Regions from separate parts of the Homo sapiens genome. Here region 1 is linked to region 2. The links come from fine-mapping of genetic effects on gene expression. A gene starts in region 2. The other region holds a variant in brackets. All regions are shown on one strand. Distances are from middle to middle. Region 1 overlaps CCM2 (CCM2 scaffold protein). Region 2 holds the start of CCM2 (CCM2 scaffold protein).

What was found.
Region 1: its variant is fine-mapped to the expression of CCM2 in whole blood (TOPMed, PIP above 0.99).

What each region holds. Positions count from the first base shown.
Region 1 is chr7:45,025,127-45,030,504 of GRCh38, forward strand. All of the region lies in intron 1 of CCM2 (CCM2 scaffold protein), which reads left to right. Among named protein-coding and RNA genes, the nearest start is that of CCM2, 28 kb to the left of the region's middle. RefSeq lists a silencer at 1,971-2,040 and enhancers at 2,431-2,480, 3,083-3,152. The variant A/G (reference allele first, on the strand shown) is at 3,168.
Region 2 is chr7:44,997,196-45,002,573 of GRCh38, forward strand. It overlaps CCM2 (CCM2 scaffold protein), which reads left to right and starts at 3,006. Exons shown (of 10, transcript NM_031443.4): 1 at 3,006-3,168. The coding sequence starts at 3,139. LOC102723334 (a long non-coding RNA gene) reads right to left here and starts at 2,813. Exons shown (of 4, transcript XR_428139.4): 1 at 2,523-2,813; 2 at 2,085-2,178. RefSeq lists silencers at 2,273-2,322, 2,953-3,482.

The DNA of each region.
Region 1 (5,378 bases), 28 kb after region 2:
GCCAGGGGGCAAAATTGAGGCCATTAAGTAGGTACTTATATAAGAGAGAAAGCAAATTTTCGTAAATTTTTTTATTGATGAAATTCAAGGTATAATAATTGAGTACAATTTTTTGTAATATGGTTCTACTACTGAGAATGGAATTCTTTTTGGGGGCTAACATTTTGCTTAATCAGGGTTCAAAGTTGGTGATTCCCTTTATCGAATTGGTGGCAAATGTTCATCTGTAAAACATTTGCAGCTGTGGCCATCAGCAGCAGGCAGGCATTGGCCAACCCCGCAGTTCTCCTTCACATCATTCTTTGGGCTCTCCGCTATGTCCTTGTTATTATTCTACGAATTTTTTATTTTGGCAGTCATATTTGTAATTTCTAAGATATATTTCTTGTTCTCTGTTCTCTCTTTTTCTTTTTTTTTTTTTTTTGAGATGGAGTTTCACTCTTGTTGCCCAGGCTGGAGTGCAATGGCGTGATCTCACCTCACCGCAACCTCCGCCTCCTGGGTTCAAGTGATTCTCGTGCTTCAGCCTCCCGAATAGCTGGGATTAACAGGCATGCGCCATCACGCCCAGCTAATTTTGTGTTTTTGGTAGAGACGGGGTTTCTCCATATTGGTCAGTCTGGTCTCAAACTTCTAACCTCAGGTGATCTGCCCACCTCAGCCTTCCAAAACGCTGGGATTACAGGCGGGAGCCACTGCACCCGGCCGTTTTCTCTTTTTCATAGCTATCTAGTCTTATTTTATGGATGCAGTTCTTCTCAAGTGTCTCTAAGTATACTAGCTAGAATGTAGGTTCCTGTGCCTGTCTCTTCCCATTTGTTCTTTGGCTTTTCTCTCTCATGCTGACCGTGGGGATCACTGTGTTTGTGAGGGAAGGTTGGGGTTGACTAGTGTTCAGAGCATGTGGGTTTTCTTTTTAGTCATGTCTATTTCCCTGGAATCCTTCCCCTCCCTGCAGTAGCCAAAATAGAGGTGAGGCTGCTCAGCTGAGTGGCACCTCTTTCTGTATCTCCCTCCTGGTTTGCCTTTTTCCCTTTGAGCCTACCTGAAGGTCAGGGTCAGCTGGTTCTGCCCTGTATAGGCAACTTTTAGGAAGGAGCAATCTGAAATTGTGACTCTACTCTGGTTTTTAAAGACAGAAAGTGACAGTCCAGTTAATACCGGATATTGACTCAAATCTAGTTCTGATGCTGCTTTTCCAACTTTATGACAGTTTCTACATCTGTGGTATATGGAATAATAATTGAAGCACTAAATTTTATTCTGAAGCAATCAGTCTTTTTGGAATCAGGAAATATTAAACTTTATTTGTTACAGGTTAATGAAATAGAATTGTATGAAAGTACCATTTTTATAGCCAAAACACTGTTGAAAATCAGCACTTTGATTTGGTTCAACCTAATATTTAAAAAATTATATTGTAATTGTTATGTTTATTTATTGATCTGTGAATATAGTCACTCTAACCAGATTTTTTTTTTTTTTTTTTTTTTTGAGATGGAGTCTCACTCTGTTACCCAGGCTGGAGTGCAATGGTGCTATCTTTTCTTACTGGAACCTCTGCCTCCCAGGTTCAAGCGATTCTCCTGCCTCAGCCTCCCAAGTAGCTGGGATAACAGGTGCCCATCACCACGCCCGGCTAATTTTTCTACTTTCAGTAGAGACGGGGTTTCACCGTGTTGGCCAGGCTGGTGTCGAACTTCTTACCTCAGGTGATCCACCTGCCTCAGCCTTCTAAAGTGCTGGGATTACAGACATGAGCCACCGCACCCAGCCAACCAGAATATTTAATTAAGTAGCCCTCCCTATTTGCAAGCCATTCTGGAATTATCAGAGTTCTAAGAGCCTTCACCAGCAACAGATCCAACTTCTGCTTTTCTAGATTAGGAAATTTGCCTTGAAGAAGTGAGCTTGGCCAGAGGCACGCTGTTTAATTTCAAAGTGCTGCTGACTCAAACTCATGAGTCCTGGAGGCAGGTAGAGGCACTTGTAGGCTGAGGACCCGTAGAGCCCGGTGTGCCCTGCCCAAGCCCCACCTGGGAATGGAGTTATCTCTGTAAAGATCTTGCTGCCTTTGAGCAAGCACTGCAAATGGGGTAACTGGAACAGCCTTGTCGCGTGTTTCCACCCTTCGTATGAGGCAGGTACCATGGGTCTTCACCAACAGCACGGCCTGTTGTCTCCAGGAAATGGTAGCCCCTCACAGTGCTTTCTGTCTGCTTGTTTAGCTTTGGCATTTGAATGTGCAGAATGGTGGACTTTGAAATTAATGTCCTTCTGTTGACTGCAGAATTTCTGCTGGAAATGCAGGGAGGCTGCTTGTGGGGTTCGCGTGCTGTGGGAAGTAGGGAAAATGAGCTGGTTTACTTTGTGTCTTTTTGTGCATGCAGACTGTTTGGATTTTGCCAACAGTTTCTGGGTGCTGCCTGCTTTTTAAACTTTTAAAAAATTGTAAACAGCTTCAGTGGCTTTGCAGAAGGAAGCTGTGGTTTCTGGTCTTCCTGTTCAGTCATGTTTTTTTCAGAGGGAGGGCTAACATCTGGCCATATTTTTCAACAAATTCAGAAGTGAGTAGAGAATGCATAGTAGCTGTCGGCAGAGGAGGAACCAGAATCTCTCCAAAGAAATTCCTCAAACAGAATTTCACACAGGGTATTCCATGGAGAATGAGGTAGGTGCAAGTCCAGTGTGGAAAGCGCCATTTAGAATGATGATGGTGTGAGTCCCTTGTGGGTGGCTTTCATGGCTGCTTCCCAGGGCTTGCCCATTGTGAGCTAGGGTAGCCCAGTCTCCATGACCCCTGCTTTGGGAGGATGGGGTGGGTGGAGGGTTCATTTGCTGGCTTCCTGGTCTGAGACCCTGTGGCAAGGGGCGTGTATGGAGAAGTGCCGTTCCACCCAGGTGGGGAGTATAGGTTGTTGGATTCATCCATCTTGACTCAAGGAAGAAGAAGCCACAGGTTTTACATCTTCCACGGAGAAGTAATTTTCCTATGGATTTGTGGTCGGGACCCAAGAGCCTGGTTGAAAAATGATGTAGGGAGATGGCCAAGCAAGAGAGCACCCAAAGCTGGAATTTCATCCACGAAGCCTGCAACACTAGTGGGGTTCTGCTTGAGACTCCACCAGCATGGATCCTGGCCACCGCCAGTGTGGCCTCCTGTGGGC[A/G]CTAAGGTGCCTATGCCTTTCTCACTGAAGCAAACAGGCGGTAGTGGGCAGAGCTCTGGTTCCCCTTGAAATTCGCTCTGTCAGCCGGGTACAGTGGCTTATGCCTGTAATCCTAGCACTTTGGGAGGTGGAGGTGGGTGGATCAGGAGGTCAGGAGATCAAGACCATTCTGACTAACATGGTGAAACCCCGTCTATACTAAAAATACAAAAAAATTGCCGGGTGTGGCGGCACGCACCTGTAATCCCAGCTATTTGGGAGGCTGAGGCAGGAGAATCACTTGAACCCGGGAGGTGGAGGTTGCAGTCAGCCGAGATTGCGCCACTGCACTCCAGCCTGGGTGACAGAGTGAAACTCCGGCTCAAAAAAAAAGAAAAGAAAGAAATTAGCCGTGTCCTGAGATGCGGGTGCACACCGGCTGTGTCATACTTATCATTTAGACCTCTCCAGCACCGAGGAAAGGTCCTTTTTCCATTGGTAGGCACCAAAGCACTTAAAAAAAAAAAAAGCTAATCTGTCAACTGACACTGCAGGGAGTGCTGGAAGTTTGTGGAAATTCACATAGGCAGGGGTGCAATGTGGGTGTCCACAGAGGAGTTCTTTGTCATGGAGCTTGTAGGAGGGGATTTGTCGTAGTGCCTCGGATGTGCACCTTAGGCAGTGTGATTTATGAGGATGGCAGGTGTCTCTCTGGGACTATAGCCTATCACTGTCCAGCTGGACAGAATCATCGCTCCAGGTTCCACTGTCTTCTCAGACCCAGGCACTGAGTTTGGTGCCTCTTCCAGTCATTTTCCCTCATTCCTGCTGGGCCCTCATGTGGCTGTGCAGTTGCGGTTTGTCTGTCTCCCTCTTTAGACTGGGGGTTCCCTGGGGGCAGGGACGGTGGCTTCTACAGCCCCAGTGTCTGGCGCATAGTGAATACTCATGAGATGTACTGAATGTTGGCCTTAAGGATACCTAGGCCTTTTTATAATACTTTAAACATCTTTGTTCAGAGGCGGTTTTGTTTTATTAGATAAAACCCACCTTGTAGTTTATTCATAAGGGTTAAATAATTTGCGCAAATGAAAATGCCTGAACCCTGTAGCAGAGACATGCTGGGTACTGCTCAGTGTGACTAAGTGTTCTTCTCTTTCTTCCTTCATAGACTTTTTAGCACTTTCTCCAGAGTAATACTGAGCTCAATGTTTTGCATGGAGAATGCAGCTAGAAGGTATAGCCATACTATTTACTTTGGTCCCCAAGTAGAGGCCACTGTTTCATGAGTCTGCTTTTGCTGGTTCTTTTAGTGGATTCATTTCTCCTTGTAAATTAATAAACAGGTGCCCTGACTTATAAGTTAGTTTCTGAGAATTTGTTGAGCAGATCCAGTTACTCCAGATCCTGTTCACCCAAGTGAGCTGATAATGTTGAGCTTCAGATTTAACAAAACTCAAGACCCGCAGTTGGCATCTGAGGGCCAGCCTTGCCCAGAGCCTGAGCCTTGGCTTTGTGTGAGGAGGGCATTCTCACTAGGTAAGCCCTAGTAGGCCAGATTTAGTTTTAGTTTTTTAACTCAGAAGTACATTTTAGGTTTCCAACTTTAAGAGTTGTTTTAAGCTTAAGACGTTAACTTTGTAAGAATTTGTAAGGATCTAGGCATCTTCCAGAGTGAGTTTAGAAAGTTCTGTATAGTTATCTGAGGTGGCATATATTCCATATGGATGTCTTTGCACAGCGCTGCATGGTGACTCAGAGCCCTGTGTTCCCTCCTCCTGGCTCCGTACTGTGGACTCTGGCAGGTCCCTTCGACCCTCACAGCCTCAGTTTCTTCAGGAGAGACTTAGGCTGGGATAGACTCCACACCTCACTTTGGTGCTGGGACTCCACTCATGGAAGAGAAATAGCACTTAGCCTGGTTTCCTTCTGGGGACTGAATTGGTCCTTTGGTCTCTGAGGTTCAAAGGTGACAAGATCATTTAGTGGTGATGAACAGGCATACTCAATCAAATACATGTTGAATGAAGAATGGTTGCCTGGGCTAATCCCACCTTTTAAATTCTATGTGTCCATCTATAGTACATTCTAGTGAGTTAAAGAACCCATGATGGTTTACTGGAATCCTGATTCTGTACATTAAAAATATGCTAAACCATTTAATTATTTCCCTCGTTCCTTCCAGACAGGGTCTCACTCTGTTTCCTAGGCTGGGTGCAGTGGTGTGATCAC
Region 2 (5,378 bases):
GTTAATAACAATGTACTGTATATTTCAGAATAGCTAGGAGAGATCTGAAATGTCTCCAACACAAAGAAATAAGTGTTCAGGTGACGAATATCCTAAATACCCTGATTTTATTATTACACATCATATGCATGTATCAAAATATCACATGTATTTTGGCCGGGTGCAGTGGCTCATGCCTGTAATCTCAGCACTTTGGGAGGCTAAGGTGGACAGATCACATGAGGCCAGGAGTTCGAGACCAGCCTGGGCAACATGGTGAAACCCTGTCTCTACTAAAAATACAGAAATTAGCCGGGCGTGGTAGTGGGCACCTGTAATTCCAGCTACTCCGGAGGCAGGAGAATCGCTTGAAACTGGGGGGTGGATGTTGCAGTGAGCTGAGATTGCACCACTGCACTACAGCCTGGGCAATACAGAGTAAGACTCTGTCTCAAAAAAAAAAAAAAAAAAAAAATTAGCCTGGTGTGGTGGTGCATGCCTGTAATCCCAGCTACTTGGGAAGCTGAGGCAGGAGAATTGCTTGAACCTGGGAGGCAGAGGTTGCAGTGAGCTGAAATCATGCCACTGCACTCCAGCCTGGGTGACAGAGTGAGACTCTGCCTCACACACACACACAAATCACATGTACCTCATAAATATGTACAATTATTATGTGTTAGCTGGGTGCGATGGCTCATGCCTATAATCCCAGCACTTTGGGAGGCTGAGGAGGGAGGATTGCTTGAGCCTAGGAGTTTGAGACCAGCCTGGGCAACATAGTGTGACCTTGTCTCAACAAAAATATACTAAAATTAGCCAGGCTTGGTGATGCGTCCTTGTAGTCCCAGCTACTTGGGAGGCTGAGATGGGAGGATTGCTTGAGCCCAGGAGGTTGAAGCTTCAGTGAGCCATGACTGCATCACTGCACTCTAACCTGAAGGACAGAGTGAGACTTTATCTCTAAAAATACAAAAGAAACAAAAAATTATTTGTCAATTAAAAAAAAACTGGCAGCTTTCCTAGTTTTCGGTCCTGCTTCCAGCTTAGGAGCAACCAGAGAAAGACAAATATGTGCCCCTAACCAATCACTTGGGATGCCCTGCCCCTTGCTTCCCCAGGCCAACAGCCTCAAATGAGGACATCCCTGGAGGCTTCCCTTTTTTCACTATAAAGCTTACCCACTCCTCTGCCTGACATTGAGTCTCATCCAAATACAAATGATGGTGGCTGACTCCCTTGTTATAGCAAGCTAACAGCCTTTTTGCTTTTCTCATTTTATTGTCTTTATTCCCAGTTATCACCATCTGATCATTAGCCAGTGGACTTTTGCTTGAAGCATGAACCTGTGTATGCAAAGACAGGGCAAAGGTATTCTGATGGATAAGAACAGCCTGAGGAAGTCAGCACATCCAGAGTTAGGCTAAGAGAAGTTTTAGTAGTGTTGTTTACTGTATTATGGAGTGATAAATATGCATTTGTGGAAGACGGTGGAAGACTTTAAATATCAGGCCTTTGTTCTGTGAATGGTGGGAAAATAATGACAACCAGATGCGCTACATCATTTGCGTGTGTAAATGTGGCAAGCTGGATTATTGCAGAAGGCAGATTGAAAGGGTGTTTCCACTATCTCTGCTTTATCTTGCAGAGAATGGAATACTTATGCCTTTGGAGAGGTCTAGAGACCAAGTATTTCTTTTGAATATCAGTATAACATAGGCCCAGTCAGGAGACAGAAACACAGTAAAGAAAAGTTTAATATAAAGAATTATTAGGCCGGGCGCGGTGGCTCACGCCTGTAATCCCAGCACTTTGGGAGGCCGAGGTGGGCGGATCACCAGGTCAGGAGATCCAGACCATGGTGAAACCCCGTCTCTACTAAAAATACAAAAATTAGCCAGGTGTGGTGGCTGGCGCCTGTAGTCCCAGCTACTCGGGAGGCTGAGGCAGGAGAACGGCGTGAACCCGCGAGGCAGAGCTTGCAGTGAGCCGAGATCCACGCCACTGGCACTCCAGCCTGGGCGACAGAGCAAGGCTCCGTCTCAAAAAAAAAAAAAAACCACCAAAAAAACACAGTTTACATTCTAGCTGTGCTACAAAGTTCTTACCGGCAGATTGGTTTAGTGGCAAAATAGCAGACCTGCTGGTGACTCCAATTTGTAGTGTGCTTTTGGGCGAATCACCTCATTCCCCGGACCTCATCTGGAAAATGTGGAAATTATACCGGATGACTGGTAAGGTTCTACGATTTTATTCTGATAGGGTCTGCACATCCTTGTGGTTGCACTTCTATTTTCCAAATGTGTTTGTCTAAGGCAGGCAGACTTTATAACAGAGAAGTACTAGAAAACGGATTCCCTGTGGCTCAGGGAATAAAGTGGGACACAAGAAAAAAGAAAACCGCACCGCACCCAGACTCTCGGCGGGACGCCCCGCCCCTCAACAGTGGCCGCCTCCTCGCGCCCCTCCTTCGCCATCTGCCGGCCGCGTCCCCTCCCGCCGGCCCCCGTCCCCCGTCCCCCGCCCCCCGTCCCCTTTTCAGAGACCTGAGCTCCGCCTCCCTGGACGCGAGGCAGGCTGGGAAGTCGGCCGCCGTAAAGATGGCGGCAAATTGAAAAAGTTGGAGCTGCTCCCGCGCGCGCTCCCGCGCGCGCTGAGTGGGCGGAGCGAACAGGGGGCTGGACAGGTGCGTTCTCGCGGCCGTGCAGAAGCGAAGTAGGGGTAGGAGCGTTTCCGGCTCTCCTGAAGGACGCGGGGCGGGGTGGGGGTGGTGCAAGGCAGGCGCGTTCTCGGCCGTCCTGAAGGGGCAGGATCTTCAGCCTGTGGGCGGTGCTCTCGCCGTGAGCGGGGCCAACGGGCCGTGTTCTCCCTGAAGGGGCGGGGTCTGATCGCTGCGGGTCGGATTCCCTTGGGCCTGAAAGTGAGGATGAGCGACAACCGTGGGCGGGGCCTGCGCTGGGGAAGGTGGGGCCTGGGCGGGGCGGAGGGGGCTCGGGCCCGGAAGTGCGGGTGTGGGGCGCGGCCGGGGCGGAGACTTCGGGCCCGGCTGGCGGGCGGCGCCGGGAGCGCGGGGGCGGCGGGCCCGGGTCGAGCATGTAGCGGCTGCTGGCGGCGGGGCTCCCGGGGCGGGCCGGGCGGGCCGCGGGAGCCGCACGCGGCGATATGGAAGAGGAGGGCAAGAAGGGCAAGAAGGTGAGCGTGCGCGGGGGCGTCCTACTGCTGTGGTCGGCGGGCGGCTGGGTTGAGGGGCCAGGGTGGGGTGGGCGGGTGTTCCTTGGGGCCCGGGGGGGGGGGCAGTGGGCCAGCTGGCGGGGCGGGGCGGGGCAGGGCGAGACCCCGGACAATGGTCAGGTGGGCTTTCGCGGCCGGGCGGGCAGGAAGCGCCGCGCCTTTCCTCTGGCCCGGGCAGCGGCTCGCCCCGACCTCGGCCCCAGACGGCCTTCCCTGCGCGTCGGGACCTGGGGCTGCAGAGGAAGTGGGCCCGGCGAGGGGCCAGAAAGCTGTCCAGGGCTGGAACTGGAGCTAGTGGGCTGTGTGGTTAACGTGGAGACGTTTGCTGCTCACTGGACTTCGTTTTTGGATATCCAGTAAAAGCAAGGGTGGCCTTCACCTTATGGCCAGCTCACTCGTCCACTATCACTCAGACCTAAAACCATTGATTGATTTTAGTGACGCTAGCTACATTTGGCAGTGGGATTTAGGACATAGTTCATAGTCAAACCCCAGTTTATGTAGTTTTACAAAATGTGGCTTTAATTACAGTAAAGGGTTATAGTAGTCGATAAAGAAACATTTTAAGACTGGAAAAACGATGTGGATTGAACTACCATTAAAGTGGAAAATGGATTTTAATAAAATGTATCTTTTTCAAATAAATGCTTTATAATCTTCACGTCTTGGCTATCATTTTCTTTTTGATGTGTGTGTGCGCACTTTTATCCACAAGTTTAAAGCAGACCTCGATAATTCCTAACTATGATTTTACTACCCTGAACTCTGCAGGGAAGTGTCCTTTAATTGACAGCTACTCACCACCTTGTTTGACAGAGTGCCCCATTTAAAAGTCCTGTTTGAAATAGAATGTAGCCAGGTGGCCTTCAGGGAGTCCTGTGGTGCTGGTTCTCTACTTTCTCAACTCATTGTTTCATGTTAGCACCATGCATGTCTAATTTAGGTGCAGTATAATTTGCGGTTATCTACAAAGATGTTTTAAGTCTGGAAAATAGCTCAAGATAGTGATTCAGCCTGCAGGTGTTAGATTAGAGATGCGTGCTGCGCACAGAAGAGGGAGGAGCCAAGCAGTGTAAAAGGAGTTAGCTGGAAAGGAGAGGTGCTAACCCGGTGGCTGCTTAGTAGGGACCATCAGGCCCGAGTGTGGATGATGCTGAGCTTTGCGGAAAGTGAGCCATGTGCTCTGTGGAATGCCGGGATCCAAGAGCGCGCTAAGGACTGATGACCTCATTGTGCACCGCTTACAGGAGTACCTGGCCCATCTACCTGTGTGTGATAGGCAAGGATGGAATTGAGTGATTTTTTTTTCTAGAGCTGTCTATCAGCTTTGGTAGAAACATGAAACACCCAGCAAATAGGGAGAGAGAGAGAGAAGCAGTAAGACTGTTTTTGGGGTACAAGTGAAAAAACAGTAAAATTATCAAGAATTTTCCAGTTGGGTAATGAAAAAATTTAGGCATAAACAGGTTAATTATTAATTTCATTTTCTCACTAGAGGAGATAATCAGTTGTTATGTAGTTGCTTAAGCCAGGGGTTTTGTGTTTTTTCTGTATTCTGCCACTTGTCTTAGCTTGTTTCCTGTAGACAAGCCAGACAAGGAGCTTTGGGGCATGGATTCTTCTCCAGGTCATGACTTAACACTACCTCGTGTACTCTGCCAGTTGCAAGCTGGCAGAACCTTCCTGCTCAGCTACCACATTCAATGTGAGATCACCTCCAGTTTAATAACTTCGGTGGTTAAATCATTCTCATTAAGGTAAATTGCATTGCTCTAAACTTATACACAAATTCAGACATAAGTAGCAGAAGTGCTGACAATAGTTTTATGAAGGTACAGTTTGGACGCTTAAATTCTTCTAAGTTAGCTTCTTCAAAAAATGCAGAATTAGGCTGGGTATGGTAGCTACGCCTGTAATCCAGCACTTTGGGAGGCCAAGGCTCGATCACTTTAGCTCAGGAGTTCGAGACCAGCCTGGGCAACATGGCAAAACCCCATCTATACAAAAAATACAGAAATTAGCCAGGCGCGGCAGCGCTCGCCTATAGTCTCAGCTACTTGGGAGGCTGAGGCAGGAGGATCACCTGAGCTCAGGTGGGCCTTTTTTTTTTTTTTCTTTTTAATCTCAGACACTTGTCTTGGTGTCTGCCAAGCAGTGATTCAGGCTTTTTT